Homo sapiens: one gene and its partners. The protein of the gene in region 1 purifies or fractionates together with the protein of each later gene. This does not show direct contact. Each region holds a gene or a part of one and is shown in the gene's direction. Other genes may lie near its edges.

Region 1 (4,191 bases):
GTGGGCATAAAAATGACCACCGGAGGGCCTTGTCAAAAGGCAGGTTTTGAAGCCCCATCTGAAAACCTCCTAGATTAGTATTTCTGGGAGGTAGGCTTGGGTATCTACACTTTACAAGTTCTCCAGGGGATTCAGATGCAAGTGGGTTCCAGGTCCACAGTCTGGTAGCAGAGCCTGCATTTCCTAAGGGCAGAGAGCATAGGTCTGAGTCACCCGGTACTGTTAGTGCCCAGCACTGGGCCTAACATAAAACCATTTGTCATAAATGAAGGAACCAATGGATGAAGGAAGAAAGGAAATAAAACACAATTTCTTATATCAAGATAATTTGAATTCTTGAATGCTGTAACTTAGGGGAACCACTGAAGCATCATTTGGTCCCAATTTAATCATATTTGAAACAAATATTTTTTTCCTTGTCTTCATATCTCTGCCTACCAAGCGTTCTCCTCACCTCTCCTATTCTGTTGTCCTGGGACATGGCTTTAAGTATGGGTTCTGCCTGTCTGCTGGCCCCGAGAAAGTGGGGATGGCACAGGAGATATCCTGAGAGGGGCTGTTCAGAGTTGGGCAGCGCTCCTTTCCCACCCCAACCCCCCAGCCAACCTCCAGGCCTTGCAGGGAAAATGCCCATAGAACCCCATTCTAAATCAGTTTATGAATCCCACCTCTCCGGGCCCTAAGCATGCCTCCCAGCCCAAAGCTTTTGAGAAACTTTCGCCGGACCTTTGTCCCGACCCAGATCCTAGCGTCCTCTATGCCCTGCCTCCTCTGCACTTGTAGCCCATGTGAGTTGCTCTCTCAGCAGCCTCTTGGCCATCTCTCCCCACCTCCACTCATGCCTCTCTCGAGCATCTCAGAAAGGCCCGAGCCTGACTTCCCCAGCCAGCTATTGTCCTGGCAGCACAGCCGCCACGCCAGCGTCCCCACCCAGTCAGCCAGCCGGCTGCTCCCTGGCCTCGCCAGCACCCCCCGCCCCCCCCCCCGCTCCCCGCCCCGCCCCAGGGAGGACCAGGCTGGCAGCTGGGAGTCTCCCTGCCTGCTCAGCCTTCCTCCTTCCCTCCCTCTCCCTCCCTGCCTCCCTCCTCCTCCGCCCGCCCCTGAGGCAGGGACCGTGCAAATCGAGGAGAGGGGGGACGGACAGGCCTGATGGGGTCCAGCTTAGGGCCCCGGACTCCCCACTGATGCTCTATCCAGGCTGGGTGTCCCCAGCATCGTGGGACCTGGATTTGTGTGCACCGGGGTGGTTCCCAGGCCAGGAGGGTCCCTCTGGCAGGCCCTTGGTGCCCTCGTTTTGCATGAGGACCCCCCTCGGATGCTCTGAGCCACCCTCCTCAACCCGGATCTAAAACCCGGGACACGGCTATCAGGCCAGCCTCTCTCTCCACCCCACCCCCTCTTTCTGGCGTCCATCCCCTCCCCAACACCACCTCTGCTGCTGCCTCTGGCTGTGGACCTGCACCTCTTCCCCATCCCCGCCAGGCCCGGGGAGCGGGGTGAGCCTGGATGAGAGCCCCCCCAACCTGGGGCTCTCCCAGGCCATGGCCCGTGTGCTCCCAGGGAGGAGCCCCGGACCCTGAGCATCTGCTGGAGGCTTGGCAGAGGCCCCGCGGGGACCGTGTCTTCTGAGGACAAAAGGCGGCGGCCAGCAGGCAGACGGAGGGGGGGGGTGGGGGGTGGGGGGGGTAGGGGGACCGGCAGCCAGGCAGGCAGACGGGTAGCAGGGGCCAGCACTGGCCCCCCTCCCAGCTTGGCAGTGGCATGAAGATGGGAGTGGGAGTGTATAGTGGAGGAAGCACCTGCCGGGACCCCCACCTGCCAGCTAGTTGGACACCCCAAGGCTGTGTGCTGCCCACCTGGTGTTCCCCAACACCCCCAGCCCTACCCAGTGCACCCCTCCGGTGCCTGCTTTCCCTGATGCCTGCGATTTAGACCAGCCCGGCTGTATCCACGGCAACAGAAGCAGGAGTGTCACTGGCCGCCAGATCACTGAGGGTCCCACAATGTGGCCCGGGCTGTGATTTACCTGGGTGAGACAGCTTGAGCCCCATCGTGGATTCCAAGACATCCCTGCTGAGAGAGCCAAGGTAAGCAGTCAGCATCCCTCCACCAAGGATGGGGGGCTGGGACTTCTGTTCTGTCTCCCCACACATACTTCAGAGTCTCCATCACTGCCATGCTCTCTGTCTCTGTCTGACTCTGTTAGTCTCTTTCTGCTCCATCAAGGGGCTCCTTGGTACCCAAGCCTGGGGACTCCTCATCTTCCCCCCATCTTCCCCAATCCCAAATGTCCCATGAGAAAGGGAACCACCACCTGTTTCCCCTCACAGGGTCTGTTTTTATCATCATGGTTGCGTTTGGGCATGAGGCTGTGTTAATCTTTCCTTGTGTGCTGGCTGTGGAAGGGATGCCTGGGAGCCCGGCGGCCGTGTTCCCTTCACAATGCCTGCACCCTGGGCAGGCTCAGCCTCTTGCGGCTGCTCCTCTCCCTCTCCCTCCTCCTCCACTCTCCTCCAGGATCCCTGGCCTGCTGGCCGGGTGTGTGTGTGTGTGTGTGTGTGTGTGTGTGTGTGTGTGTGCACCTGGGTAGCAAGCAGGTGGGTAGACATGACAGAGAAGCTGCTCCCAGCCCAGACCATCCCCCACTCCTTCTTTCCTCCTTTCCTTCCTTCCTTCCTTCCACCCTCCCCACCTCCCCATCTCTCCCTACAGGTAGCAGAGTTTTGCTCACTCACCACTGAAGATGTTGCCGATTCCCAGCTAGGGGGAGGAAGTCACTGTAGGGCTAAAGGACAGTGAAGTGGTGGTGGGGAGCACTTCCAGGCCCTAGGCTGCCTGATGGTTCTGTGGGGGCAAAGACCAATCCCATGACAACCTGCAGGGGCCAGGAACAACATGGTTGTCCCTACAGTGTGGGACCCAGCCTCCACCACAAGGCTCTCTGTCTCTGTTTCAGATGTCCATGTTGTGTCTGAGACCCCCCGGATCTTGTGGCCTTGTGCCCAGTAGCCGGAGGTCCATATATCTGGAAGGGCAGGAAAGCCTGGTACATGGAGAACATGGATCCTCCCAGGGACACTTCCCCCAACTACTAGCTCTGCAACTTTAGTGGAAGCATGCCACTTACCGAACCTCAGTTTTCCCATCTGTCAAAGAGACTGGTAACCCTTCCCTGATGGGTGTGTGTAGGGATTGAATGAGTTGGTGCATGTAAGTAAGAGATGTGCATCGAGGTGGCACTGAAGCAATGTCAGCAAAGCTCACAGTCAATATTGTTGCTGATTATTCATGATTAATAGTGTTATCGATTACTTGGAGGAGGGACAGGTCCTTCTTCTCCAGGGTCTCAGCAGAGATCTGGGGAGGGCAGCAAGTGGGCAAATGGAGGGTAGTGGAAGGGAGGCAGGAGAAGCCCTGTGTTAATACTTCTCATTTGTAGAGAATGATAAGTGGTTATGGGCAGAGCCTCCCTCCCCCACCCCACTCCAGTCTTCTTTCCCTGCACTTGTCCCTGTTTGTGCGCACACACACACACAGAACCTTGAGCCCCCATGAGCCAGCAGAGGCCTGGCTTGCAGCCTGCAGCCTTTCTGGCCCTGGTGATGTATGTGTCTCCCTGTTGAGGGGAGACTTGGCAAGAGTTTGGCCTGTGGTCAGTGGTTGGCAGGGCCTGGAGATGAGGCTGAAGCTCCTGAGATCACGGGGCTTCGGGTAGAGCTGGGGTGTGGCCCATGCAGCAGCCAGACCTGTGAGGGACGCGTCCCAGGGAGCTGCTCACCTAGAGCCTGGGGTGGGGGAAGAACGGGGTCTGCTGGCTGATTTCAGGGCATGGAGATGTGATGGGACACAGAGTGTGGGGTCGGTGGCCAAGGGAAGAGGAGGAATGGGGAAAGACTGAGGCCCAGAAGACCATCTCTGTGGGGGCAGGGAGGGGGGCTTTGAGGCATAAAGTAGACTTTTCTGAAGAAGCATTTGGTGTGGGAGAGGACCTGGTCTGTGGTCTGGAGGCCTCTGGGCCCGAGCGTGGTTGTATATATGCTACTGAAAATGTGTGGCTGAGTGTGTAGTCTGTGTGTGCATGTCTGTTCATGGGCAGTGTGGCTGTGTATGAACCTGTGTGTGTAAGCAGGCCGTGTGATGGCATGTGTGTGAGTGTGTGGGTATCTGGGTAGGCTTGTGTGTGTACTGTGG
Region 2 (3,500 bases), on another chromosome or scaffold:
GCTCCAACCAACACGGCATCCGACGTAACCTGACAGCTGCCCTGGGCCTGGCTCAGCTGGTCTTCCTCCTGGGAATCAACCAGGCTGACCTCCCTGTAAGATGCTCCTACTGCCCAGAAACTGTCCCCACCTTCTCAGGCCGCCTCCCCAGCCCCCACTGGCAACCCCTGCTCCTGCACCATGAACTCTAATAAGGTGCCTAGTGCAGCACCTGGCCCAGGGTTTCCTCTTCTGTGGCTCCCCCGGGATCCCCCAGCACCTGCCTCTGGCCCAGGCTTCCCTGGAAGCAGTTCCCAACACCCAGGCCCTCCTCCATGCCTGACCCGAAGCAGAGCCTGTGCTCTGGGCGGGCCCCGGTCGCTGACCTGCCCTGGCCTGGGCCCTCAGTTTGCCTGCACAGTCATTGCCATCCTGCTGCACTTCCTGTACCTCTGCACCTTTTCCTGGGCTCTGCTGGAGGCCTTGCACCTGTACCGGGCACTCACTGAGGTGCGCGATGTCAACACCGGCCCCATGCGCTTCTACTACATGCTGGGCTGGGGCGTGCCTGCCTTCATCACAGGTACTCCCACCCATTCCCAGTCTTGGGGTCCCACATCCCTGGGTCCACCTTTGTGCCATGTTCTCTCCACCCACATACAGGCCCTGAGGCCCCACATCCCCATGCCCCAGGCCGCCTTATTCACAGGTGTCCCTCTGGTTTAACCCAGACTCTGCAGCCGCCACCCAGGCGTCACTCCCTTATCCTGGGGAGATCGGTAGGGGCCGATGGTGGGCAGAACCCTTTTCCATGCTTCATGCCTGGCCCTGTGAGCCCACCTGCCCGCAGCCCTACTTCCCAGGCCCCTCATCACCCCTCCACTGCTCCCGTCTGTCTCCATGCTCCAGGGCTAGCCGTGGGCCTGGACCCCGAGGGCTACGGGAACCCTGACTTCTGCTGGCTCTCCATCTATGACACGCTCATCTGGAGTTTTGCTGGCCCGGTGGCCTTTGCCGTCTCGGTGAGTGCTAGCAGGTGGGTTGGGTGTCACCTGTGGCCCTCCTTTGCTGTCCTCCTGCTGCTGGGGCCGCGTGTCCTCAGGACTCCCTTTAGGAACAGCTGAGGCCACGGGGCCCTGTGGGCTGGGTGGAAGCTGTTTGTCCCCACTGAGCACCCCATGCCCTCTGCCCCTGCCTAGATGAGTGTCTTCCTGTACATCCTGGCGGCCCGGGCCTCCTGTGCTGCCCAGCGGCAGGGCTTTGAGAAGAAAGGTCCTGTGTGAGTATAGGGTTGGGGTGCCTGGGCCATGGGCAGGCACCAGCATGGGAGGTCTCATGGCCGGACTCATGGCCTGTCCCTATCCCCAGCTCGGGCCTGCAGCCCTCCTTCGCCGTCCTCCTGCTGCTGAGCGCCACGTGGCTGCTGGCACTGCTCTCTGTCAACAGCGACACCCTCCTCTTCCACTACCTCTTTGCTACCTGCAATTGCATCCAGGTACCTGGCCCAGCCTGTGGAGAAGGGAGGCACCTGGGCTGTGGATGCCTGAATATGCACAGACCGTTGCTGCCTCTTGCCTGCCAGGGCCCCTTCATCTTCCTCTCCTATGTGGTGCTTAGCAAGGAGGTCCGGAAAGCACTCAAGCTTGCCTGCAGCCGCAAGCCCAGCCCTGACCCTGCTCTGACCACCAAGTCCACCCTGACCTCGGTGAGGGAGCCAGGGGTCTCAGGAGGGCGGTGAAGGGAGGGAGAGGCAGGAGGCCCAGTGAGCCTGTACTTTTGGCCCCACTCCCCTTTCTCTTTTCTCCATCCCTTCCTGGAAGGTGGAAGGGGAGGTGAAATGCTGTGTTCGGCCTGGGGAGGAGATGTTGGAAAGGGTGTGTAGGATTTTGACTTGAGGGAGATGGGGCTGAGACAGATAATCAGGTAATAAGTGCCTTGCACCTGAGAATCTCTCATGAATTTTAGTAAATTTTCTGTCTCCCAAGGTGCTCTCAGGAGACAATTTCTGGTCTCATCTTTTACAGAGCCATTATATAGTGAGTCCAGGATCCCTGGGGGCATGCAGGGGTAGCACAGCTGTGGCAGAGCTGTGACCACTGCCAGGCCTCAATATGGGGACAGCGGAGAAGCAGGGCCCTCTCTTTCAGACCTGAGCATGTGGAAGGTGGAACTTAGGGCAAGTTCCCTCCACCCTCCTTCTTCCCAGCCTGGGGCCAGCCATCCCACTCCCCACTTACTGACCTCTCTGTTCCCTGCCTAGTCCTACAACTGCCCCAGCCCCTACGCAGATGGGCGGCTGTACCAGCCCTACGGAGACTCGGCCGGCTCTCTGCACAGCACCAGTCGCTCGGGCAAGAGTCAGCCCAGCTACATCCCCTTCTTGCTGAGGTGAATCCCGGAGATGGGAGGGTGGAGGAGGGGAGGAGGGGCCCACGCATGCTGGACCCAGGCCAGCCAGCTGTTGGGAGTTGAGGAGCACACACTGTGGCTGACGTGGGGGCCAGCTTGGATTAGAAGCTGTAAGGGACCCACAGCAGGAACCAGGATCCCAGGGGAGAGGAGAGACTGGGACCCTGGGCAAGGGGCCAGGCTGACCCCTCCAGCATGGTCTCATCTTCCTAGGGAGGAGTCCGCACTGAACCCTGGCCAAGGGCCCCCTGGCCTGGGGGATCCAGGCAGCCTGTTCCTGGAAGGTCAAGACCAGCAGCATGGTGAGGACAGAACGCTCTGGCCACCCAGCAGGGCAGTTGGCTGGCTTTTACTGAAGGTGGGTGGAGGTGGCTGGGCTGGCTGTGATCTCTCCCTGGCCTCCTAGATCCTGACACGGACTCCGACAGTGACCTGTCCTTAGAAGACGACCAGAGTGGCTCCTATGCCTCTACCCACTCATCAGACAGTGAGGAGGAAGAAGAGGAGGAGGAAGAGGAGGCCGCCTTCCCTGGAGAGCAGGGCTGGGATAGCCTGCTGGGGCCTGGAGCAGAGAGACTGCCCCTGCACAGTACTCCCAAGGGTGGGCCAGCACTGGGGCTGTGGCCTTTGGGGCCAGTGGGAGGACAGTGGGCCTGGGGTTCTTGGGAAGCAGGACTGGGGTGGTGGCCTCCTGGCTATCTGCCCTCTGTGGGCCTCATCTACTTCCTTTCCCCACCAGATGGGGGCCCAGGGCCTGGCAAGGCCCCCTGGCCAGGAGACTTTGGGACCACAGCAAAAGAGAGTAGTGGCAACGGGGCCCCTGAGGAGCGGCTGCGGGAGAATGGAGATGCCCTGTCTCGAGAGGGGTCCCTAGGCCCCCTTCCAGGCTCTTCTGCCCAGCCTCACAAAGGTGAGTGGGGCACCCCCAGCTGCCGAGCTCCCCTAGTCAGCAGCCTCATACCTCACATTCTCCTGTGGCCGCACCTCACAGCCCCGCCCCGGCCCACAGGCATCCTTAAGAAGAAGTGTCTGCCCACCATCAGCGAGAAGAGCAGCCTCCTGCGGCTCCCCCTGGAGCAATGCACAGGGTCTTCCCGGGGCTCCTCCGCTAG
Region 3 (3,500 bases), on another chromosome or scaffold:
GGAGTCACTCGCTCTGTTGCCCAGGCTGGAGTGCAGTGGCATGATCTTGCCTCACTACAACCTCCACCTCCTGGGTTCAAGCAATTCTGCGCCTGAAATCTCAGCACTTTGGGAGGCCGAGGTGGGCTGAACACTTGAGATCAGGAGCAGGAGAGTAGCCTGGCCAACATGGTGAAACCCCATCTCTACTAAAAATACAAAAAATTAGCCGAGTGTGGTGGCAGGTGCCTGTAATCAGGCAGACTGAGGTGGGAGAATCACTGGAACCTGTGAGGTGGAGATTGCAGTGAGCTGAGATCACGCCACTGCACTCCAGCCTGGGTGACAGAGTGAGACTCCAGCTCAAAAAAAAAAAAAAAACCACACACACACAAAAATACAATTTTATTAGAATTTATACAATGAGAATCCTAAATATAAGCCCTAAATTGATCTGCTTATTTTAGATGTTAAATCAGTTAGCAATAATTTCCGAAGTATAGAAACTTCTAAATTAGTAAAATCTAAAATAATTCTTTCCATCTTCGGCCTCCCTTCCCCTTCCCCGCTCCCCTTCCCCTCACTGGTTACTTTTCTCCTCCTGCTAAATGGATGTAGAGGCACAAAGAAAGACAGGAGGGACTGGTCACGGTGGCTCACACCTGTAATCCCAGCACTCTGGGAGGCCGAGGAGGGTGGATCACCTGAGGTCAGGAGTTCGTGACCAGCCTGACCAACATGGTGAAACCCCATCTCTACTAAAAATACAAAAAATTAGCTGGGTGTGGTGGCGGGCGCCTGTAATCCCAGCTACTTGGCAGGCTGAGGCAGGAGAATCCCTTGAACCTGCTAGGTGGAGGTTGCAGTGAGCTGAGATCGCGCCACTGTACTCCAGCCTGGCGACAGAGCAAGACTACATCTCAAAAAAAAAAGAGAGGAGGTCAGGCTCACCGTCCCATGGGCCTGATAACTGGGACAGAGCTGCCCTAAAGGGAGACAGGAGTGTTGGGGGGATGGGCATGAGCTGGGTTTTGGCTGCGTTAATTTCAAGGTATTAGTGACGTCAGGCAGCACTTGGATAGAGGAATCTGGAGGGCACGGGAGAGGACAGGGCTGCAGAGATTTATTTGGGACACTTGTACACTTGTATTTAAAGTTGCTAGGCAAGGGACCAGGTGTACAGACTGAGTTCTGAGTCTCTCCAGCATTTAAGTGGTCAGGGAGAAGCAGTGACTCCTGAGGTCAGGAGCACTGGGAGGGCTGTGCCCTGGAAGCCCTGGGCAGAAAGGGCTTCCAGGGGAAAGGAGGGAGTCACCGTTGGTCAGCAGGTCATCTGAGAATAACACTCCACCATGAAAGGTCATTGGTGACCTTGACCAGAGGCTCTCTGGCCCGGGGAGGGGAAAATTCTACCAGGACAAAAAGATGTCCCCTCTGGACAGACAAATTAGAAAATAGGAAAAACAGCCCAGGGGCCCAAAGCTCACCCTGCAGAGGGTGACTGACTGGCCCCTTAGGCTGGAACCTCTGTACGGAACCCCAGTTGGCCAGCCATCAGGCAGTGCCCAAAGCTCAGCTTGCAGAGGAGGGGTGAACGTGTACATGGTGCTCAGGGCTGTACACCTACAAGGTGCCTGTCATGCAGCTGGCTGCCACCCGAGGGTGCACACACACAGCAGTGGATCCCGCCAAGGGGTCTCAGAGAGGAGGCGGGGGGCGGAGAATGGTATCAAGACCCTGCTCAGGGAATCAGCTCATTTCATCCGCAGGAGGGCTGTTTCCACTATAAGAGAGGCTGCCAGGCCGGGCGCGGTGGCTGACATCTGTAATCCCAGCACCCTGGGAGGCCAAGGCAGAATGATCACTTGAGGTCAGGAGTTCGAGACCAGCCTGGCCAACCTGGCGAAACCCCGTCTCTACTAAAAATGCAAAATTAGCTGGGTATGGTGGCGCACACCCAGCTACTCAGGAGGCTGAGGCAGGAGAATCGCTTGAACCTGGGAGGTGAAGGTTGCAGTGAGCTGAGATTGTACCACTGTACTCCAGCCTGGGCCACTCCAGCCTAGGCTACACAGTGAGAGTCTGTCTCAAAAAAAATAAAAACAGAGAGAGGCCAGCAGCCTTTCACTGTGAGGGAACCTTTCGTTGGTCAGGATTTGGTCTGAGCCTGTGGAGTAATTAGGGATGTGAATGTAGTGGAGAGGTTGTTTTCTGACTTTGGGGGTCTGAACAAGGTTCTGCTCACTGAACCTTGTCAAAGAACACACCCCCATTCCCTGGGGCTCGATCTGTGGCAGTAAAAAGCACAGAGGGCCCTTGTCCACCCTAGAGACTCTCACCAGTTTCCCTTTGTTCTCCTTAATTTTGTTTTCCCCCTTAATTTTGTCTCAGTTTTGTTTTTAAATTATAAAAGTAAAACATGCCCATCAAATATAACAGTATAGAAGGGTATATAGAGAGGCAAAATAGCCTCCTCCCCAAACTCCAAATACCCCCAAAGGTGACCACTCTTACTACTTCTGGACGCTTCCAGGGCAGTTCAAGCCCACACACGCCTTTGTTTCTGTGAAGGCAGATGGCTCCATGCATTCTGTTCCGTGACTTGCTCTTTCACTAATAGCGTATCTTGGATTTCGTTCCGCGCTTTATTCATCCACCTCTGCCGTGTTCTCCCTTGAGTAGCTGTGGCCCCTTTTGAGTCCCTGTGCCCTATTGCTATTGCTTTAGGTTGTTTCTGGTTTGGGGCTGTTAAAAAGAATGTTGCCAAGAGCCCCCTTCTCTTGTGTCTTTTGTGAAGGTTGCCTCTCCCTAGGGTGAGTTCCTAGAAGTGGACCTTCTAAGTCCAAGGTTAGGAACCCTTGATTTTGTGACATCCTGACCAACTGGCCCCCTGAAATGTACCCTTTTACCTGGCCACCAACCAGATACATGTGAGGGCCTGTTTGTCTTCCCCATCCTCCACCATAACTGGGCATTACCAGGCTTTTTAGAGGGTGCCCATCTGGAAGGGGGTACAGGTTGGGCATCCCGAATCCAAAAATCCAAAATCCCAAATGCTCCAAAATCCAAAACTTTTTGAGTACCAACATGATGCTCAAAAGAAATGCTCATTGGAGCATTTTGTAGTTCAGATTTTCAGATTTGGGATGCCCAATGGCGTGTATTCTGCAAATATTCCAAAATCCAAAAAAATCTGAAATCTGAAACACTTCTGATCCCCAGTGAGGAATAAGGGATACTCAGCCTGTCAAAGCTGCCTTGCTTTAATTCCCATCCCCATGTGGTGACATGGTTTAGCTAGATGCCCAGGCCCTTCCAGGCACTGTCTTTCTGGAGGGCACTCCTGTATGGACAGCCTCCAGCAGGCACAGAGGCCTGGGGGCGGACCCCAGGGTCCCGGCCTGGCCCGCTGCCGCCCTGCTGGAGGGCCTCACAGATCTCTTGAACTTGTTGGCTCATCTCTAGGAAGATACTGGGGTATTTTCAATCGAGTCCAGCCATGGCTTTGTCTAGCAAGACGC
Region 4 (3,500 bases), on another chromosome or scaffold:
TGGTCTTGAACTCCTGACCTCAAATAATCCGCCTGCCTTGGTCTTCCAAAGTGCTGGGATGGTAGGCGTGAGCCACCGCGCCTGGCCTAATTTTGTATGCTTGTAAGTTAACATTATGTGCCTTTGTATGGATTTGAAATATAAGGATAAAAATCAACCATATTTGTATATTCACTGAATAGCCACTATTCTGATGTATTTAACATCATATATATATGTATTTTTTTTTGTTGTTTTTTTTTTTTTGAGACGGAGTTTCACTTTTGTTGCCCAGGCTGGAGTGCAGTAGTGCAATCTTGGTTCACTGCAACCTCTGCCTCCCGGGTTCGAGTGATTCTTCTGCCTCAGCTTCCCAAGTAGCTGGGATTACAGGCATGCGCCAGCACACCGGCTAATTTTTGTAATTTTAGTAGAGATGGGGTTTCACCATGTTGGCCAGACTGGTCTCAAACTCCTGACCTCAGGTGATCCACCTGCCTTGGCCTCCCAGACTGCTGGGATTACAGGCGTGAGCCACCACGCCTGGCCAACATCCAGTATTTTTGAGTACATGGTTTTCATATACTTAGGCTATACATACATGTTCATGAATTGTATTCATTTAATTATGCTTCTGACTTTACTTGTTCTCCCTAGGGGAATATCAGTTATGCGTGCTTAGTAAAGTTGTGTTATTTTCCAAGATGAAAAATTGCATATATTTAAGAATCATTATTCAAGGGCATTGATTTGTGGGGGGTAGAAAGTTATTATGTGGCCTTTTGCTCATTAAAAACACTGGATCTTTATACTTCCTTTCAGAAGACAGATACTTCTCAGGAGTCAAAGGTAAGAGCTCTTTATAAAGTTTGAAGGAGACCTTTGAACCTTTCAGGTGAGGGGATACGTGCCCCTAGTGGATGGTGACCTCAGCCTTGCTTGTGTTGTATTGTTTTGGAGACAGGTCTTACTGTTGCCCAGGCTGGAGTGCAGTTGTGTGGTCTCAGCTCACTGCAGCCATGACCTCCCCAGCTCAAGTGATCCTCTCACCTCAACTTCATGAGTAGCTGGGAATATAGGTGCGCACCACCATGCCCAGCTAATACTTTCTATAGAAACAGGGTCTCAGTGTGTTGCCTAGGCCGGTGTCAAACCCCTGGCTTCAAGTGATCCTCCAGCCTCGACCTCCTGAAGTGACTGTGGGCCACTGCATCTGTCGTTTGTTTTTTTTGTTTGTTTTTGTTTTTGTTTTTGAGACGGAGTCTCGCTCACTTGCCCAGGCTGGAGTGCAGTGGCGCGATCTCGGCTCACTGCAAGCTCTGCCTCCTGGGTTCACGCCATTCTCCTGCCTGGCCTCCCGAGTAGCTGGGACTACAGGTGCCCGCCACCACACCCAGCTAATTTTTTGTATTTTTAGTAGAGACGGGGTTTCACCATGTTAGCCAGGATAGTCTCAATCTCCTGACCTCATCATCCGCCCTCCTCAGCTTCCCAAAGTGCTGGGATTACAGGTGTGAGCCACCATGCCCAGCCTGTCCTTTGTTCTGTTTTTGATCACTGAGCTATGGTTGAAGGGAAGTAAAAAAAAAAAACAAAAACAGACTTACTTTTTTTTTTTTTTTTTGACACAGGGTCTTACTTTGTCACCCAGGCTAGAGTACAGTGACGCAAACGTGGCTCACTGCAGCTTCAGCCTCCAGGCTTCAAGTGAGCCTTACCTCAACCTCATGAGTAGCTGGGACTATAGATGCACACCATCATGCCTGGCTAATTTTTGTATTTTTTTGGTTAGGGTATTTTTTTTATTTTATTTTATTTTTTGTTTTTTTGGTAGACACTAGTTTTGCCATGTTGCCCAGGCTGTTGTTTTAACTCCTGGGCTCAGTTGATTCACCCACCTTGGCCTCCCAAAGTGCTGGTATTGCAGGTGTGTGCCACTGCACCCAGCCTTGGGAAGTAAAATGATAAGATTTGGGGTTTTGTGAAAAAGATAAAATGGCCACACATGCCAGTATGGTCTTGTTGTTGGATGTTGAGAATGTCATTGTTTGAGAAGTGATTGTGTTCCCTACCTGTGACTGTTACATGAGTATATTCTTAAAAAATAATTTTCTTAGAATTAGAAAATGGGAGTTCAGTTATAACCACTGATTCCTTACCTGTTACCGAGGACTTCATGGTCCAAAGTTACTTCTTTTCTGGTAGGCGCAAGCAAACTGTCGAGTAGGAGTTGCAGCACTGAATACTCTAGCAGGCTATATTGACTGGGTGTCTATGAGTCACATCACTGCTGAAAACTGTAAACTCCTGGAGATACTGTGTTTGCTGTTGAATGAACAGGAACTTCAGTTGGGAGCCGCTGAGTGTCTTCTCATTGCAGTCAGCAGAAAAGTAAGTTACCACTTCAAACTGACTTATCCTCAGTCTCTGAAGTAGGCTGTGTATGTGTTTAATTGCATGTTGTGGCAGAAAGTCATTTAAAGGTTTGGGTTTTTTTCCTTGGGGCCAACTTACTGCCTGCTTCCAACCCCCTTGGACAGGAGTTTGCCAATATTCAAGGGATCCTTTGGCAGAATGTGGAGATTTATCAGGCTGCATGGTTCTTGAAATAGCCATGATACTTGGCAATTTACAGTTAACAGATAAAAGTAAATGTTTAAGTTTAAAGCTCACTTAATGAATGTCAAGGAATCTTGGATGGTGGCTACAGTAGGTTTATATCTGTCTTTTTTTTTTTTTTTTTTTTTTAATTGAAACAGTCTTGCTCTGTCACCCAGGCTGGAGTGCAGTGGCGTGATGTTGGCTCACTGCAACGTCCGCCTTCCGGGTTCAAGCGATTCTCCTGCCTCAGCTTCCCGAGTAGCTAGGACTATAGGCACACGCCACCATGCCCGACTGATTTTTGTATTTTTTAGTAGAGATGAGGTTTTGCCATGTTAGCCAGGCTCTTCTCGAACTCCTGAGCTCAAGTGATCTGCCCTCCTCAGCCTCCTAAAGTGCTGGGATTACAGGCGTGAGCCACTGCGCCAAGCCTATGTCTGTCTTGGCTAACCAATGGAACTGTGACTCTTTTCTCCATAGGAATATTATCTACAAATGTAATTTACTTTGCTGTCATATCAGCATTATTGCCCAACACATTTATTTATTTATTTATTTATTTTTTGAGATGGAGTCTCGTTCTGTTGTCTAGGCTGGAGTGCAGTGGCGCAATCTCAGCTCAGTGCAACCTCTGCCTCCCGGGTTCAAGCAATTCTCCTGCCTCAGCCTCCTGAGTATCTGGGATTACAGGCGTGTGCCACCACACCCAGCTAATTTTTGTATTTTTTAGTAGAGATGGGGTTTCACTATGTTGGCCAGGCTGGTCTCGAACTTTTGACCTCAAGTGATCCACCTGCTTTGACCTCCCAAAGTGCTAGGATTACAGGTGTGAGCCACGGCACCTGGCCTAATTTTTGTATTTTTAGTAGAGACAGGGTTTCACCATGTTGACCAGGCTGGTCTCGAACTCCTGATCTCAG
Region 5 (3,500 bases), on another chromosome or scaffold:
CATTGAGAAAAAAATTTCTATGATATAATTCAGGTAGGTTGAGGTGTTTTTTGTTTGTTTTCTTTTTTTGTTTGTTTCTTTTGAGATAGGATCTCTCTTTGTTGCTTAGGCTAGAGTGCAGTGGAACAAACACTTCTCACTGCAGACTTGACCACCTGGGCCTTAAATGATCCTCACTCCTCAAGCCTTCCAAGTAGTGGGACTGCAGGCACATGTCATCATGCCCAGCTAATTGTTTTTTCATTTTTTGTAGAGACGGGGTCTCACTATGCTGCCCAGGCTGGCCTCAAACTCCTAGGTTCAAGCAATCCTCCTATTTCAGCCTCCCAAAGTGGTGGGATTACAGGCATGAGCTACAATGCCTGACCTGAGATTTCTTAAGAACGTAACTATCACTGAACAGACTTCATCTCTTTTATAGTGCTAAAGCACGTACTATTTTTGTGTGCATCTCTTTGGTTGCATGTCTGTTTCCCCACCCAAGTGTCTTGAGAGCAGAGATCATCCCTTTTTGTCTTTAACCTCCCAGTGACTAGCATAGTGCCTGCTGCATTCTTGATACTCAGTTATTTAAAGAATAGCATCTTGATAACTATATTAGTAATATTTTCAAAGACCCATCTCTGGGTCCCAAGTAGATCTCATTGTTGGATTGCTAATGGTTCTTGTGTCACATTTTCAGGATCAGTAATTGTTTTATAGAATTGATCTGAGACTTGATAATGAATCCACGAAAACTGTATTGAATGTGCTTGTGGCACAGTTTTTTCTTTTTCACTTAACATTTAAATTAGGATATGTTGTAGAGGGCAGTAAAGAATAGATTTATGCTTATTTTTGGATACTACACAAAATGAATATTCCTTAGTATTAGAATTGTTTAGTGTACAGTGACATACATTTCCAAATGATTATTATATTGAGATACTGAACTCTTGAACACACACGTGGTTTATTCAGCATATAAAATGTTTTCATTTATAGATATTTTAAACTGCATTATAACTTATAGACATTTTTAATTGTTTAGATATTTCAAGTTTGTGTACATAAGTTGCTTACTCAATTGACTAAACCATTATGTGTTAAAACTTCTTTTTCTGCAGAGATGCAATTGAGAACAACATGGATTTTATGGGATTAATTATAATGCAGAACAAATTAAAGCAAGAAACCCCTGCAGTACTTGAAGATTTGCATAAAGCCAACATTCGCACCGTCATGGTCACAGGTTAGACTTTATAAAAGAACACAGAAGCAAATGGAGTGTGACAGAGCTGAAGTTATATTATATTGAGGGATAATCAGTTATAAAATCATATTATATAGTCTATAGTGGTTTCAACCTAAGTTCTCTTTTAGCTCTGAATATTTTCCCAAGCGCAAGATAACTTTGTCATATTCTTTTTGAGGTCTAGCGAATCCTATTTATAGAAAGTGTAGTAGAATAGTAAAAGTACGGCCGGGCGCGGTGGCTCACGCCTGTAATCCCAGCACTTTGGGAGGCCGAGGCGGGTGGATCATGAGGTCAGGAGATTGAGACCATCCTGGCTAACAAGGTGAAACCCCGTCTCTACTAAAAATACAAAAAATTAGCCGGGAGCGGTGGCGGGTGCCTGTAGTCCCAGCTACTCGGGAGGCTGAGGCAGGAGAATGGCGTGAACCCGGGAAGCGGAGCTTGCAGTGAGCCGAGATTGCGCCACTGCAGTCCGCAGTCCGGCCTGGGCGACAGAGCGAGACTCCGTCTCAAAAAAAAAAAAAAAAAAAAAAGAATAGTAAAAGTACACTGTAAAAATTTAAACTTGACTCCTTTTTGTTTTCTCTCTTTATTCGTATATTTCTTATAGCACTTATTGTACCTTGTGTTATTTGTAGATTTGTTTTCTGTACTAGAATATAAGATTCTTGAGGGTTAGGAGTATATTTTACTCATGTTGGGGTCCTTTGCAACTTTTAGAACTGTCAGCTACATAGAAAATGATTAATAGATATTCGATAGCATGAAATGTTTATATGTAAGATATTGTTTATTACCCTAGCTTGAATTCTAGTGAAATAGCCTACTTTTTTTTTTCTAGTACATCTAAGGGATTCTCCTGATGTTACTATACTGTTGATAATATTAGATAACTCTTACTCATTAGCTGTGTGAAATTGTGGTAGCTCTGTTTTTTGTTTTTTTTTCTTAGCAGATAATCAGATTTAAGATACTTAATGGCACTTACGTGTTCAGTAAGACTAATATGGAGAAAGTCTGTATACATTTTTGTGTTTTAGACTCTTGAGATCTATCTAATAACATAATTTTACCGTATAACTCAAGGTAACTAAGTCTGTTAGCATTCCAGCCATTCTTAGTTCTTGCGTCTTCTTTGTCAAGACACTTTTCACCTGTTCCTCGTCCTCCTCTTTTATTTATTTATTTATTTTCCCCTTGCCAGAATATGGCTTTGTGTACCAAAGGTCATAGGAAGATATTCTTGGAAATAGTGTGTGGAAATTGAGGAAAGAAATATCTCGCTCTTCTGTTTTGGTAGCAGTGGGATCCACAAACCTTTGTCTGCTTCTCCTTAATAAGATCCTGTTCTTGCTGCTCTTCTTTCTTCTCATGACTGAGAAGTTGTCTCTCTTGTTTCTCGTTTACACCTGTTCTTATTACCTGTCTTACCTTTTTGTTTTGTATGATCTTGCTTTTGTAATTCATCATTTTCTATGATATGGTGCTGGTGTTCTTGCACAGACCACTAGTCACTTTGTAAAGTTATTTCGGTAAGTATTTATTGAGCCACCTGATCTGTGTGTAGCACCGTGCCAGGTATTGTGTAGATACAAATAGTGCATGACTGGAAAAGATTGAGAATTATATTTGGCTTTAAAAATTGTGGGTGAGATGTTTTCTTTAGCATATAACGTGCTTGCGTTATTTGAGGCTTCTTTTGATAAGTATGCTCCAATTTTGTTATTTTTAAACTGTAAGTGGAAGAACCATACATTATCGTTACTCTGCCAGCCCAGTCATGGAGACTGTAGTAGATTCTCAGCAAGTACATGTTTGATACGTTCACGTTTCCATTTTAATTTCAATACATTTAAAATATTTTGAAAATTAGGTGACAGTATGTTGACTGCTGTCTCTGTGGCCAGAGATTGTGGAATGATTCTACCTCAGGATAAAGTGATTATTGCTGAAGCATTACCTCCAAAGGATGGGAAAGTTGCCAAAATAAATTGGCATTATGCAGACTCCCTCACGCAGTGCAGTCATCCATCAGCAATTGACCCAGAGGTAAGGTCAAGATCGACTGTCCGTTTTAAAGTTTGTTGATTTAAATTTAGTCTGAAAAAATAAAAAAAGTGGTGCATTAAAACACAGTAAAGCAAAAACTAAATGAAAACAGAAGTCAGGGCTATTTTTTCAGAGATTATGTTTCATTAGGACTGGGACAGACCCAGGAATCTCAATGTTCAAATTTTGATATTTAGCTAAGATGAGAAGCATA
Region 6 (3,500 bases), 9.3 Mb from region 1:
TAGATGCTGGGAAGTATGAGTTATTTTTTAACATCCTTATTGAGACGTAATTCACATACCATACAATTCACCTATTCAAAACGGTGCACAGTTCAATGGCTTTTAGCATTCACAGCATTATACATCCAAGTGTGTTGTTGTTTAGTTAATTTATTTGATGACAATAAATGAACTAATAATATAGCAGTGATTTTTATGACTATTATACTATTACTAAACCAAGCAATAATTTAATGCCAAAAGCTTAATCTAAACAGGATGAGAAATGTAGACTAGTGAGTCAAAGACTGTTGAAAGTATGCAGCAAACAGAGGGGGTAAGTGGAAATGGCTAATCAATCTGTCCATGAAAACTGGTCGAATAAGGAGTAAAACCTGCTTATCAGAAGATACGTAATAACTTTGGTTAGCACTTTCTTTACCTGCTTAAAGATGGCAAAATATTATCCAAGAGAACATTCTGGGGCCAAGGGGCAGCACCTGATAAGCTGCTGGGTCATTAAGTTAATTTTTAGATATGCTGACTGTGTTACTCTATTTTCACACTGCTGATAAAGACATACCTGAGACCGGGCAATTTACAAAAGTAAGAGGTTTATTGGACTTACAGTTCTACATGGCTGGGGAGGCTTCACAATCATGGCAAAAGGCAAGGAGGAGCAAGTCACATCTTACGTCGATGGCAGCAGGCAAAGAGAGAGCTTGTGCAAAGAAACTCCCGTTTTTAAAACCATCAGATCTTGTGAGATCCATTCATTATCACCAGAACAGCACAGGAAAGACCCCCGCCCATAATTCACTCATCTCCCACTGGGTCCCTCCCACAACACATGAGAATTATGGGAGCTACAATATGAGATTTGAGTGGGGACACAGAGCCAAATCGTATCACTGAGTGTAGAATATGTCAATGGTATTTGTTTCATTCTGCATTTATTGGCTAAGTGCCAACCATTTGCGAAGCACTGTGCTGAGAACTTCAATACCAAGGACAGCCTCCCTGCTGAGAAGGAGCTGACAGTGTTGAGGGCTAGGGTGGGGATGGGGAGAGGACATGATATCAAAAATTGACTCTAAAGTACTGACATATGTCCCTGGAAGGGAATAAGGATAAAGGAGGGCACTACTGTATCACCACTCAGAATGTTACCACTGAGGTAAATGCTCTAATACAGGGGCATAGAGATACCACTGGAACACACAGAGGCACAGGCTAGCTTTACTTAGAGAAATCTGGGAAGGCTTCATAATGCACATACCACCTGAGGGTTGTAGGAGGCAGAGAAAGGCTATTGGGGATGCAGTCTATGCAGATGGAATGGCATGAGGAAAACGCTAGGATCCCACAGGTTTCTGGAAAGTCTGGGGAAGAACTTTGCATGGATGGTGTATTAGGCCATTCTTGCATTGCTTAAAATAAATACCTGAGTCTGGGGAACTTATAAAGAAAAAAGGTTTAATTGGCTCATAGTTCTGCAGGCTATACAAGCATGGTGCTGGCATCTGCTCAGTTTCTGGTGAAGCCTCAGGGAGCTCACAATCATGGCAGAAGGCAAAGTGAGAACAGGCAAGTCACATGGCGAAAGCAGGAACAAGCAAGTGTGGTGGGGAGAGGTACCATACACTCTTAACGTGACCAGATCTTGCTAGAACTCACTATCATGAAGAAGGCACCAAGCCATGAGGGATCCGTCCCCATGATCCAAACACCTCCCACCAGGCCCCACCTCAAGCATTGGAAATTACAATTCTACATGAGATTTGGGCAGGGACAAATATCAAAATATTATATCAGATGGGCTATGGGTGATATTAAGGACAGAATGGAGAATCAGATCAAAGGGGGAGGAAGAACAGTTTGCCCTATATGACACATTCAGGAATACAAAACTTGATATTTCAACAGAGAACAGCTATCACTGCATTACTTTTGTTTTTGGCTTTGTTTTAAATCAGAAGTGTGATATGATTAGATTTCTGACCACAGAGTGGTGGGTTTTATGCTCAATTTCATAAATACCTTTTGGTTTGGGGAACAAAGAGGACACTAACCTGAACTGGCCTGATCCTGACCACGTGAGAGAAGCAAGATAAATCCCATTGTATCTGGCATTGGTGGTGATACAGTAATGCCTTCTTTTATCTTTATTCCTTCCCAGGGATATATGTCAGGCTTCCTATAACTACCTTCAATTTTTAGGGTAGAAACTAAGGCACAGCATAGCTTAACATAATTCCCAGCTTGAACAGAGACTACCTGCCCAGAAGACTTCCCTTGACCCTTCAGGGCCATGGTATTTAAGATATTGCAATAAGTTTTATATTCAGAGCCCTGAAAGTTCACAGTACATGTTCTGAAGGAAAAGAGAAGACAGAATTACCAGTACAACTTGGTAAAGAACTAAATATACATTTCTTAAGAAATGTTTCTTCTGGATAGGGTGAAAAAAATGATTGTCGTGATTATGCAGTAAAACTCATAAGCCACAAGAAATATATGTGGAGTTCCCCTTTATGATGTCCTATATCTTTTGTAAATATATACTGTCTGTTCACGCACCTGCAAAAGAAGGGGCAGGTATTTTTCTTACCTGGTTGTTGGACTCTTTTTTTCCCTTAAAGGAACATAATTTCCAAATGACAAGTGGCGGGAAACTATCTCTTTGTTTAAAATTAATTCTTGGTTTTCACATATTCTGATTTATAGTATGATTAGTTCTCTAAGCCTTTGTTCTGTCTTCTAATATTTCATTCTTAGGGTCTAGCCAGGCCTCCTAGAGGTCTCCAGCTGGGGTTAGTTTTCTCCATTGAAAAAAAAGTAAACATGTAGTGAAAAACGGCATTGTTTAATCAACACGGGGAAAGTCAATCCACCTTCTCTTGTAGGAAGGGTTCCTTCCTGAGTACCCTTAGGCTCTCTATATATTTCATGTGTTGTCATCAATATACTAATACAGGTGTTCCTCAAAATATGATGGGGTTATATCCCAATAAACCCACCATAAATTGAAAATATTATAAGTGGAAAATGCGCTTAATACACCTAATGTACTGAATATCATAGTTTAGCTTAGCTACCTTAAACGTGCTCAGAACACTTATATTAGCCGACAGTTGGGCATAATCATCTAACAGAAAGCGTATTTTATAATAGAGGGTTGAATATTTCATGTCAAGTTTTAAATACGGTATTGAAAGTGAAAGACAGAATGGTTGTATGGGTACTTGAAGTATGGTTTCTACTGAATGTGTATTGTTTTAACACCATCATAAAGTTAACAATTATACGTTGGAGACCATCTGTATTCTATATAATATCTCTCCTTGTATTTTCTTCTCCTTTTTGTGATGACTACAATCAGAGCAGGTGAAAGAAAACCCACCAATGCAAGCCAGCTCATTTGGTTTTCTAATAAAAGGCCCAGTGGTGTACAGTGTTGACTAAGATGGAACATGGATGTTAGTTCTTGACATCGCTTATCAGATATAAGAGAACCATGA
Region 7 (3,500 bases), on another chromosome or scaffold:
ACTCCAGCCTGGGCGACAGAACAAGACCTTGTCTCAAAAATAAAAGAATCAGGGTCAGGAAGAGCACTTCTGATACCACTACTTAAAAAAGCCTTTATGGCCAGGCGAGGTGGCTCACACCTGTAATCCCAGCACTTTGGGAGGCTAAGGTGGGAGGTGGGTAGATTGCTTGAGCTTGAGTTCGAGACCGGCCTAGGCAACATGGTGAAACCTTGTCTCTACTAAAAATACAAAAATTAGCTGGGTGTGGTGGCAGGAGCCTGTAGTCCCAGCTACTCAGGAGGCTGAGGCAGGAGAATCACTTGAACTCAGGAGGTGGAGGTTGCAGTGAGCTGAGATCATGCCACTGCACTCCAGCCTGGGCAATAGAGCAAGACTTTGTCTCAAAAAAAAAAAAAAAGCCGTTATTACAAAATTAAACAGAATTTGTAAGACACACATAACAATGTATTCTATGGTGAATTATTGTAAGGTGAACATTTTTGTAACTGTCATCCAAGTCAAGAATCAGAACTTTGCCACTCACTTCAGAAGCCCCCCTTCGTCACAATCCCCTCACTCTTTTCATAAGTAACTATTATCCTGACTTTTATATGTAATGACATCTTTGTATTTTTAAAAGTTTTATTACTCAAATGAACATCCCTAGTTCATTTGCCGTTAGGCTTAGTCTTGCCCCTAAGAAAAAAGTTTTTGTTTGTGTTTTCAATCTCTCTTAATTTTTAGGGTCCCAGGTTCCCTTTCTCTTCCATAGTGTTTATCTATTGAAGAATCCAGACAGATCTCCCATAGTTTGAATTTTCCTGATTATATATCATGATACAATTTAACATGTTCCTCTATCATCTCTATTTCCTGCAAATAGGCAGCTGGATCCAGAGACTAGATACCACTGTTTTTTGTTTTTTACTTTTTTTTTTTTTTTTCAGCCAGAGTCTCACTCTGTTGCCCAGGCTGGAGTGCAGTGGTGTGATCTTGGCCTACTGCAACCTCCACCTCCTGGGTTCAAGCAATTCTCTTGCCTCAGCCTCCTGAGTAGCTGGGATTACAGGTGTGTGCCACCACACCCAGCTAATTTTTGTATTTTTGGTAGAGATAGGGTTTCACCATGTTGGTCAGGCTGGTCTTGAATTCCTGACCTCAAGTGATCTACCTGCCTCTGCCTCCCAAAGTGCTGGGATTACAGGCATGAGTCACTGCACCAGCCTGTTTTTTAGCTTTTTACTTGAAATCATTTTAAACTTACAGAATACTTGCAAAAATATTGCAGAGAGATCTGTATACCCTTCACCCAGCTTCCCCCAATGTTAATATCCTACATAGTCATAGTACAGTGATCAAAACTAAGATGATAGCATTGGTACAATACTATTAACTAAACCATAGTTGTTAAGATTTTACCATTTTTGCTGGGCACAGTGGCTATGCCTATAATCTCAGCACTTTGGGAGGCTGAGGCGAGGGGATGCCTTGAGCTCTGGAATTTATGACCAGTCTGGGCAACATAGGGAGACTCCCTCTCTACATAAAATTAAAAAAGAGTTAGCTGGTTTGGTGGCGCACACCTGTGGTCCCAGCTACTTGGGAAGCTGAAGTGGGAGGATTGCTTGAGCCTGGGATGAGGAAGCTGCATTGAGCTATGATCATGCCACTGCACTGTATGTAGCCTGGCACCAGAGCAAGACCCTGTGTAAAAAAAAAAAAAAAAAAAAAAAAAAAAAAAAAGTTTTACCATTTTTTCACTAATTTTTTTTCTGTTCTATGATCTAATATTCCATATTGCATTTTTATTTTTATTTTATTTATTTATTTATTTATTTTTTTGAGTCAGAGTCTCGCTCTGTCACCCAGGCTGGAGTGCAGTGACACGATCTTGGTTCACTGCAAGCTCCGCCTTCCGGTTTCATGCCATTCTCCTGCCTCAGCCTCCCGAGTAGCTGGGACTACAGGTGCCCGCCACCTCGCCTGGCTAATTTCTTATATTTTTAGTAGAGATGGGATTTCACCATGTTAGCCAGGATGGTTTCGATCTCCTGACCTCATGATTTGCCCACTTCAGCCTCCAAAGTGCTGGGATTACGGGTGTGAGCCAGCACGCCCGCCCCCCCCTTTTTTTTTTTTTTTTTTTTTTGAGACGGAGTCTCGCTCTGTCACCCAGGCTGGAGTGCAGTGGCGAGATCTCGGCTCACTGCAACCTCCACCTCCCAGATTCAGGAGATTCTCCTGCCTTAGCCTCCCGAGTAGCTGGGATTATAGGTCCCTGCCACCATGCCAGCTAATCTTTGTATTTTTAGTGGATACGGGGTTTCACCATGCTGGCCAGGCTGGTATCGAATTCCTGACCTCAGGTGATCCACCTGCCTCGACCTCCCAAAATGCTGTGATTACAGGCATGAGCCACCGCGCCTGGCCACATATTGCGTTTAGTTGTTATATCTCCTTAGTCGTTTATCTGTGATAGTTCCTTAGCATTTCCTCATCTTTTATGACCTTGACACTTTGAAGAGCTCTGGTCAGGTATTTTGTAGAATGTCCCTCAATTTGGTTTTGTCTAATGTTTTCTTGTGGTTTGACGGAGGTAATGGATTTTGGGGAAGAATACCCCTGAGATGATATGGTCCTCTCAGTGCATTGGATCAGGGGTGCATATTGAAATGCCCTAATACTGGTGATGTCAGCCATAATCCCTTGGTTAATGTAGTGTCTGCCAGATTTCTCCACCATAAAGTGACTGTTTCCCTTTGTAATTAATCAGCATTTTAGGGGCTATTCTTTGGAGCTCTGCAAATATCCTGTTTTTAAATTTTTGCCTACTAATTTTTGCATTCATAGGTTAATCTTGCCTGTAACAGTCATTACTCAGGTGTTTCAATGGTGACTTTTCTGTTTCTCTCATTCATTTTTATTTAATAATTAAAATTCTTCTGTAAGGAAGAGTTGTCATTTCTTTGCATTTATTTAACTATTTATGTCAGTATAGATTTGGATATTTTATACTCTGGACTCTGTATACTATATTCATTCTGTTGTTTGGATTATTCTAGTTTTGGCCATTGGGACCGCTTTCATCTTGACCCCTTTGTCCTTTTGCCATACCTCTATCTCACTTTTTTTTTTTAAAAGCACTTTATTACATTCTAGAACTATAAGATGATCCAGGTTTATCTTGCTTAGTTCAGCCCTGGAATTGACCACTTCTTCAAGGGCCCTGGCTCCTTTTATTAGAGAATGTTATTTAGAAACAAAGTTCTGAATGCTAGGTGTGTTCATTGCAGCTGGAGTGATGCTGCTTCTTAGGCCCTCAGCTAGAAGTATAGGGACACTACTGCTTTTGAACAAGCTTTTGTCCTTATTGATACGGGAAACTGAAAAATAATATTTGTCTTATACAGGATGATATGCTTTTATTATCACCCATAGGAAAAGTATACCAAGGTAACTAAGAATTATTGGCCAGGCATAGTGGCTCATGCCTGTAATCTTAGCACTTTGGGAGGCCA

Evidence for each region.
Region 2: the proteins of GPR173 (region 1) and CELSR2 purify together in Homo sapiens (affinity purification with mass spectrometry; one large-scale study listed by BioGRID and IntAct). This does not show direct contact.
Region 3: the proteins of GPR173 (region 1) and CNNM4 purify together in Homo sapiens (affinity purification with mass spectrometry; one large-scale study listed by BioGRID and IntAct). This does not show direct contact.
Region 4: the proteins of GPR173 (region 1) and XPO5 purify together in Homo sapiens (affinity purification with mass spectrometry; one large-scale study listed by BioGRID and IntAct). This does not show direct contact.
Region 5: the proteins of GPR173 (region 1) and ATP13A3 purify together in Homo sapiens (affinity purification with mass spectrometry; one large-scale study listed by BioGRID and IntAct). This does not show direct contact.
Region 6: the proteins of GPR173 (region 1) and MAOB purify together in Homo sapiens (affinity purification with mass spectrometry; one large-scale study listed by BioGRID and IntAct). This does not show direct contact.
Region 7: the proteins of GPR173 (region 1) and PIGU purify together in Homo sapiens (affinity purification with mass spectrometry; one large-scale study listed by BioGRID and IntAct). This does not show direct contact.

What each region holds. Positions count from the first base shown.
Region 1 is NC_000023.11:53,047,398-53,051,588, forward strand, and holds the start of GPR173 (probable G-protein coupled receptor 173), read left to right. Parts: upstream 1-1,391; 5' UTR 1,392-2,087; intron 2,088-4,191. UniProt on the Homo sapiens protein: Is a receptor for the SMIM20 derived peptides Phoenixin-14 and Phoenixin-20. It mediates the Phoenixin-14 and Phoenixin-20 augmentation of gonadotropin-releasing hormone (GNRH) signaling in the hypothalamus and pituitary gland.
Region 2 is NC_000001.11:109,270,039-109,273,538, forward strand, and holds part of CELSR2 (cadherin EGF LAG seven-pass G-type receptor 2 precursor), read left to right. Parts: coding exon 1-95; intron 96-387; coding exon 388-562; intron 563-888; coding exon 889-1,001; intron 1,002-1,178; coding exon 1,179-1,258; intron 1,259-1,347; coding exon 1,348-1,474; intron 1,475-1,561; coding exon 1,562-1,684; intron 1,685-2,239; coding exon 2,240-2,367; intron 2,368-2,601; coding exon 2,602-2,690; intron 2,691-2,794; coding exon 2,795-2,989; intron 2,990-3,127; coding exon 3,128-3,298; intron 3,299-3,397; coding exon 3,398-3,500. UniProt on the Homo sapiens protein: Receptor that may have an important role in cell/cell signaling during nervous system formation.
Region 3 is NC_000002.12:96,791,902-96,795,401, forward strand, and holds part of CNNM4 (metal transporter CNNM4 precursor), read left to right. Parts: intron 1-3,500. UniProt on the Homo sapiens protein: Probable metal transporter. The interaction with the metal ion chaperone COX11 suggests that it may play a role in sensory neuron functions. May play a role in biomineralization and retinal function.
Region 4 is NC_000006.12:43,566,039-43,569,538, reverse strand, and holds part of XPO5 (exportin-5), read left to right. Parts: intron 1-801; coding exon 802-828; intron 829-2,184; coding exon 2,185-2,370; intron 2,371-3,500. UniProt on the Homo sapiens protein: Mediates the nuclear export of proteins bearing a double-stranded RNA binding domain (dsRBD) and double-stranded RNAs (cargos). XPO5 in the nucleus binds cooperatively to the RNA and to the GTPase Ran in its active GTP-bound form.
Region 5 is NC_000003.12:194,431,503-194,435,002, reverse strand, and holds part of ATP13A3 (polyamine-transporting ATPase 13A3), read left to right. Parts: intron 1-1,106; coding exon 1,107-1,231; intron 1,232-3,110; coding exon 3,111-3,286; intron 3,287-3,500. UniProt on the Homo sapiens protein: ATP-driven pump involved in endocytosis-dependent polyamine transport. Uses ATP as an energy source to transfer polyamine precursor putrescine from the endosomal compartment to the cytosol.
Region 6 is NC_000023.11:43,770,951-43,774,450, reverse strand, and holds part of MAOB (amine oxidase [flavin-containing] B), read left to right. Parts: intron 1-3,500.
Region 7 is NC_000020.11:34,667,093-34,670,592, reverse strand, and holds part of PIGU (GPI-anchor transamidase component PIGU), read left to right. Parts: intron 1-3,500. UniProt on the Homo sapiens protein: Component of the glycosylphosphatidylinositol-anchor (GPI-anchor) transamidase (GPI-T) complex that catalyzes the formation of the linkage between a proprotein and a GPI-anchor and participates in GPI anchored protein biosynthesis.